2 linked regions of the Homo sapiens genome follow. The protein of the gene in region 1 purifies or fractionates together with the protein of each later gene. This does not show direct contact. Each region holds a gene or a part of one and is shown on either strand. Other genes may lie near its edges. The genes, in order: SERPINA10 and NADK.

Region 1 (3,309 bases):
ACCTTAGTTACTTGGCTAAAGACTAGCTGGGTAGAATATCTTTTCTCTGTTGCTCACATATTTTCATTTTTAAAAAGTTGCAGATGAGAACACTATGTCAAGATAAAGCCTTTGGGAGGAACACATGTAAACATTCTCCTTGAGTCATGTGCTTCTCTCTCTTTCCTTCTCTCTGGTGCAAAATAAGTGTTTTATTTTAATCTATTACGGAGTCATTTCTTGCTGACTGACATCAGAAGAAAATAGCTCTAACCAGTCCTGATCACAGCATCTGCTTCCATGGTGCATCAAATCGCTTGGCAGAGGCATTGGCTGAATCACAGATCATCTAGTTCAATACCTTCATTTTACAAAGGAAAGAAAGAGGGACCCAGAAACAGGTCCATATTCTTACTTTCATGGGCCCTAGGCACGTTTAACCTTGTAGACTCCTCCTTCCTTCATGAAGATATATATGTTCTATGGCTGCATTGGTAGAAAGATGAATATATTCGTCTTTCAAAGTTGCATATCTAGCTTCAAAGTTATATGTCTAGCATATGGCAATAAGCAAAACACCTTCATGGGCCCTTACAGTACTGTCAGCCTTGGGCACTGTGTCTTCTGCATCTAGTGGATAAGTCATACCTTATATACCAGTGGGAACAAAATACTTGTCCAAGGTCTTCCAGTGTGGCAATGGCAGAGTCAGAAGCCTACCTTTCCTGAGTCTAGTCTCCAAGCCCTTTTTACTCTTCCTTCCATCTAAAACATCTGATGGGGACCAGGTAAACAGCATGCACTACAGCTACCCATGGGGGTTAAACAGAATATAAGCATGAACTTTGTCCCAGGGTGAAAAGGAAAATCGTAAATATCCCTGATCTTCCTTAGGCAGTTATTTTCTGTCACAGAAACAGAAAAGACTATATTCAGAGAATCCTGAATAGAGCTGATTTACAGTGTGAACTATGTTAACTAAATGCCTAATTGGATTTCTGTCTGTCTGCTATCTAATGTTTAAAAAAACCTAAAATTCATTTATTGATTAGTTGTTTAATATAATTCAGAGTAATGTGAATAGGTAATAATATTAATATGCAGTCTAAATACTGACTTTTCATCATTCCATAACCTGGACTGATGAAAAGTCAGTATTTAGACTGCATATTAATAAAATAAAATTCATTCCTGTATTCATTCCAAGAGTACTAATTGACACTTATGAAGGGACAGGCAATTCTAGGCCCTAGAGGGCCAAAGACAGAGGACTAACTCTATCTGACATTCTTAAGTCACCTTGTTTGTGTTCAATTAGTCAGATTTGTTTGTGGAAAAATAGTAGAAAGAGGAATAAAGTAGCATCCAGTCCAATTTCCCACTTTTAAGAGATGAAATCTGGAAAAATAAGTCTGTGAGAGCACAATACTCACTGAAATCAATATGGCCAAACCCAGTAATAAAAAGGTACATTATTATTGAAGGATTCATATAGCATGCAGATAAAAAACTCCTGCCTTCTTCCCACCACATACACTGCAAAGCAACAACAGCATAATAATTGTATTTAATATACTACTCTTTAAGGTAGAAAATGGACCTATTCTATATTTTAAATATACTTTTTAATGTTCCCTCACATTTGCTTTAAGAAGTTCCTAAGACACTCAGTTTCAGATTTCCCAAGTACACAGGCATGACAGAAAAACGCAGACCAATAAAAAATGTAACTTACCTTACACAAATACATACACACAAATTCAGGGTTTCCAACCGAGCGGGGGAAATCTTAACATTGTAGAAGTCTTCACTATATATGTGTCGAGTTTTTGTTTTTGTTTTTGTTTTTGTTTTGAGACAGAGTCTTGCTCTGTCACCCAGGCTGGAGTGCAGTGGTGCGATCTCAGCTCACTGCAACCTCCACCTCCCGGGTTCGTGCCATTCTCCTGCCTCAGCCTCCCGAGTAGCTGGGACTACAGGCACCTGCCACCACGACCGGCTAATTTTTTGTATTTTAAGTAGAGATGGGGTTTCACTGTGTTAGTCAGGATGGTCTTGATCTCCTGACCTTGTGATCTGCCCGCCTCGGCCTCCCAAAGTGCTGGGATTACAGGCATGAGCCACCACGCCCGGCCAAGTGTCGAGTCTTAAAAATTGTTCCTACACAGACACACTCAACCACACGTTCTCACATATATATGCTGTAACAACTGAGAACAGGTTACTGACTTAATCTAATTCATTCTATCTTCATTGTAAAACTTCCACTCCAGCTGAAGAGCCTGTTTCATTTCAATTCAAAGATTTCTCATATATCCACTAATTGTATGGCAAAACTGACTCATCTCCAGACTAAGATATTCAAGCTCAGGAAGTCAAATAATAGAAATGATTTTTTAAATGTGTAAGAGGTTATAAAGAAAAACTTTATGTGCTCCTTATTTAACCTCTATTAAGTAAAATCCTTTATAGACCTATCTCCATTTCTGCAGTAAAAGTGAGCTCTACAGTTAGCTTGTAAGGCTAACTAGTGAAATTCCTGGACTTGTTCTTAAAAATGCAAGTTTTAGTAATTAACAAAATGATGATGAAGATGTCCCTTTTCCCTACAACTACAGATGGAGGGAGATTTTTCTTTGCCATACAACTAGCTTAAAGGATTAATTTGATAAGTTGTTAAACTGAGAACTTTCACAAAAGTATCCATCTTGTTTTTGATATAAATGGAGATACATGTAGTTATTCATAACTGTCAGTAATTTGCTGTTTATCCTGTTTCTATATATCTGTCCTTGAGAGTATAATTTTAATAAATATTTCAAAGATTTTAGGAAATGTCATGTTCTGTTAAAAAACTTCCAAAAGTAATTTTGATGAACAGTTTTGATAACTTAGTACTAACTAGGACTAAGACTGCAATTGACTGCTCTACATTCCTGAACTTTATAAGCAGTAGTTGTTTCTCTCTGTCAAATCAGTGTCCCCTTTTCCCATTTGCATCATGGGAAAGTGAAACCTTATAATTCTGCTAAATTTATTATAACAAATACATTGAAATTCTCCATTTTATTAAATTAATAGAATGTTATGAATCAAAGCACCAAAAAAACTGATGCAATTTTGATGTCTCGTTCTGTACCACATTCTCCAGATCTTAATATATTCAGTTCCACATTATTGGTGCTAGTAGGAGACATAATGAAAACAGTTAAATGAAATCCACAGCGAGTATACTGATTAACCAGTACTGTCAAATTTCTCATACCTATTGAATTTTAACTACTGACAAAATGAGCAGTAACAATTCCATTTACCTGATTGTCCTTTGGC
Region 2 (4,031 bases), on another chromosome or scaffold:
TCAGAGCTCTGGAGGCCAAGAGTCCAAGGTCAGGGTCCCAGCTAATTTGGTTCATCGTAAAGACTCTCTTTCTCACTGTAATGGCCATCTTCTCTGTGTCCCCACATGGCTTTACTTTTGTGCCCAGTGAGGGTGGGAACAGAGGTGAGGAGAGAGCTCTCTGGTGTTCTGTTTTGTTTTTGAGACAGGGTCTCTATTGCCTAGGCTGGAGTGCAACAGCACAATCACAGTTCACTGCAAAACCTCAAACTCCTGGGCTCATTGATCCTCTTGCCGGAGCCTCCAAGTACCTGGGACTGCAGGCATGCACCACTGTGTCCAACTGTTTTTGTTTTGGTTTTGTTTTTGTTTTTGTTTTGTAGAGACAGAATCCTGCTATGTTGCCCAGGCTGTTCCTGAACTCCTGGCCTCAAGTGATCCTCTTACCTCAGCCTCCCAAAGCCCTGGGATTACATGAGTGAGCCACCGTGCCTAGCCTGGTGTCTCTTCTTACAAGGATGCTCATTCTGTCTGATCAGACCCCACACTTATGACCTCATTTTTTCTTTTTTTTTTTTTTTTGAGACGGAGTTTTGCTCTTGTGGCCCAGGCTGGAGTGCAGTGGCACAATCTCGGCTCACTGCAACCTCTGCCTCCTGGGTTCAAGCATTTCTCCTGCCTCAGCGTCCCAAGTAGCTAGGATTACAGGCGCCCGCCACCACGCCCGGCTAATTTTTGTATTTTTTAGGGACAGAGTTTCACTATGTTGGTCAGGCTGGTCTTGAGCTCCTGACCTCAGATGATCTGCCCGCCTCAGCCTCCCACAGTGTTAGGATTACAGATGTGTGCCACCGCGCCCATTTAACTCCTTTCTTAGAGGCCCACCTCCATATTCAGCCACACTGGAAGTTAGGGCTTCAATGTAGGAATTTGGGGGGATTGCTGGGTGGAGTGGCTCACACCTATAGTCCAAGCACTTTGGGAAGCCAAGGCAGGAGGATCACCTGAGCCCAGGAGTTTGAGACCAGCCTAGGCAACACAGAGAGACCTTGTCTCTACAAAATAAAAATAAAAAATAAATTTGGGGAGGACACATTCAGTCCATAATGTCACATTTATCCTTTTTAATGCCAGAATCTACCTTGTCCTCATTAAGATTTATCTTCTTTAATGAGAAGGTATGTTTGGCTTTATTTTGTGTGTTTAGCCTCTGTTGAGTGATTTTTATTGTTTCTGTGCACGGCCCCTCTTCTGTTCTTCTGAAGCTTGTTTTATTCTATTTCTGGCTTTATTGGCTTGAATGCTCAGTTCATGGTTTCCCATGGGCTGTGACCCAGCTTTGATGGGATTGAACCGACCCTGGCAGCCTGTTTATGTCACCTCCAGCTTCTGGGTGTTCCAGATGTTGGGTCTGATCTTCACTTTGATCCCTGGGTTGCTTAAGAGAAAGTTCAGAAACTTCCAAGTGGCTGAGGGCTTTTCTTTGTTTCTATCTCTTCCTGGTTTTATTGTATTGTGGTCAGAAGATGAGGTTCTAGGCTGGGCGTGGTGGCTTACGCCTGTAATCCCAGCACTTCGGGATGCTGAGGCGGGCAGATCATTTGAGGTCAAGAGTTGGAGACCAGCCTGGCCAACATGGTGAAACCCCATCTCTACTAAAAATTCAAAAAAATTAGCTGAGCGTGGTGGCGCACGCCTGTAGTCCCAGCTGCTAGGGAGGCTGAAGCAGGAAAATCACTTGAACCCGGGAAGCAGACGTTGCAGTGAGCTGCGATCACACCACTGCACTCCAGCGTGGGCGACAGAGTGAGACTCTGTCTCAAAAAAAAAAAGATGAGGTTCTAGGCCAGGCATGGTGGCTCATGCCTATAATCCTAGCACTGTGTTGGGAGGCTGAGTTGGGAGGATCACTTGAGGCCAGGAATTGAAGACCAGCCTGGGCAACAGAGCAAGACACCCTGTCTCTACCAAAGGAAAAAAAATTAGCTGGACGTGGTGCTGTACTCCTGTAGTCCCAGCTACTTGGAAGGCTGAGGTGGGATCCTGTCTCAAAAAAAAAAAAAGAAAAAGAAAAAGGGGAAAAAAGGGTGAGGTTTTCTATCCTCACCAGTTTTCTTTGAGGCTTAATATTGGTCAGTTTGGTAAATATTTCATTGGCGCTGAATTCACGATGCAAGGCATGGAGTTCACAACATATCTGCTGGTTCAATTTTATTTGACAGCTTTTCTGGACTAGGGTATTTGAAATTGCACACTTTCTCTCTCATTAATGTGTTGTATTGTTTACGAGAAAAGAGCCTGTCTTTTTTTTTTTTTTTTTTTTTTTTTTTTTTTTTTTTTTTTGAGACGGAGTTTCTTTCGTTCTTGTTGCCCAGGCTGGAGTGCAGTGGCACAATCTCAGCTCACCACAACCTCCGCTTCCCGGGTTCAAGCGATTCTCCTGCCTCAACCTCCCAAGTAGCTGGGATTACAGACATGCGCAACCACGCCCAGCTAATTTTGTAATTTTAATAGAGATGGGGGTTTCTCCATGTTGGTCAGGCTGGTCTCAAACTCCCGACCTCAGGTGAGCCACCGCACCTGGCCAGAGTCTTTCTTTTCTTAAGACAGGGTCTCGCTCATGGGCTACCATGCCCGGCTAATTTTTTTTTTGCTAGAGAAGAGTTCTTTGTTGCCCAGAGTGGTCTTGAACCCCTGGCCTCAACTGATCCTTTCTCTCCAGCCTCCCAAAGTGCTGGGATTACAGGCATGAGCCACCACACCTGGCCACACAGTGTGACTTTCTATTTTGTTCTTTTTTGAAACAATTTTTTTTGTTAATATTATTTTACAGAAAAAATTTTGAGATGAAGTTTCACTCTAGTCACCCAGGCTGGAGTGCAATGGCATGATCTCGACTTACTGCAGCCTCCACCTCCTGGGTTCAAGCGATTCTCCTGCCTCAGTCTACCGAGTAGCTAGGACTACAGGCGCCCACCACAGCTAATTTTTGTATTTTTAGTAGAGACGGGATTTCACCATATTGGTCAGGCGAGGCTGGTTTCGAACTCCTGGCCTCAAGTGATCTGCCCGCCTCTACCTCCCAAAGTGCTGGGATGACAGGCGTGAGCCACGGCACCCAGCCAAAAACCTAGAGTAGTTCTTAAATATCTTTGCAATGGAAACAGTCTGTTTTCAAAGTACTTTGGTAAATTGGACTTCAGCCATTTTTTCCCCTTGATGAAATGGAACATATGTATGTGTAAATTATTATTGTTTCATACATATTTATTTACTTTATTTACATTATTTATTTTATTAAATTAAGGCATCAGTGTTTTTCTGACCGAAGTTCTCATTTCCTGACAATGGAAATGGAACAAGAAAAAATGACCATGAATAAGGAATTGAGTCCAGACGCGGCTGCTTACTGCTGCTCGGCCTGCCACGGCGATGAGACCTGGAGTTACAACCACCCCATCCGGGGCCGGGCCAAGTCTCGCAGCCTGTCTGCCTCGCCCGCCCTGGGGAGCACCAAGGAGTTCAGGTACAACTGGGAGGGATGGTTCCTCTTTTTTTTCTCGTCTGATTTCATAATATTCTTTCTTAAAACGATTATGAAGAATTCTCCTGAGTAGTCTGCGTCGATGCATCCGGAAGGTGAGGCTGGGTCCTTGCCCAGGTGAAGCTGTGCCCTTGAAGGGGGATCCTGGCCCATGGACACCTGCCTGGCGCACGTTCCCAGGTGCCAGCACAGGCACAGGGTGCCACCGTGTTTCTCTATCTGTCTGTATCAGCACAGAACCATCTAACTGGCGCCTACGCTGACCCTTGATGTTAGACTGAAGCGCACTTGGAGAGGAAACTTTTTTTTGAGACTGAGTCTCGCTCTGTCCCCCAAGCTGGAGTGCAGTGGCGCAATCTTGGCTCACTGCAACCTCCGCCTCCCAGGTTCAAGTGATTCTCCTGCCTCATCCTCCCAAGAAGCTGGGATTACAGGCGTGCACCACCATGCCCGGCTAATTTTTGTATTTTTGTAGAGACGGGGTTTCACCATGTTGGCCAGGCTGGTC

Evidence for each region.
Region 2: the proteins of SERPINA10 (region 1) and NADK purify together in Homo sapiens (affinity purification with mass spectrometry; one large-scale study listed by BioGRID and IntAct). This does not show direct contact.

What each region holds. Positions count from the first base shown.
Region 1 is NC_000014.9:94,279,960-94,283,268, reverse strand, and holds the end of SERPINA10 (protein Z-dependent protease inhibitor precursor), read left to right. Parts: 3' UTR 1-2,809; downstream 2,810-3,309. UniProt on the Homo sapiens protein: Inhibits activity of the coagulation protease factor Xa in the presence of PROZ, calcium and phospholipids. Also inhibits factor XIa in the absence of cofactors.
Region 2 is NC_000001.11:1,764,702-1,768,732, reverse strand, and holds part of NADK (NAD kinase), read left to right. Parts: intron 1-3,286; 5' UTR 3,287-3,326; coding exon 3,327-3,505; intron 3,506-4,031.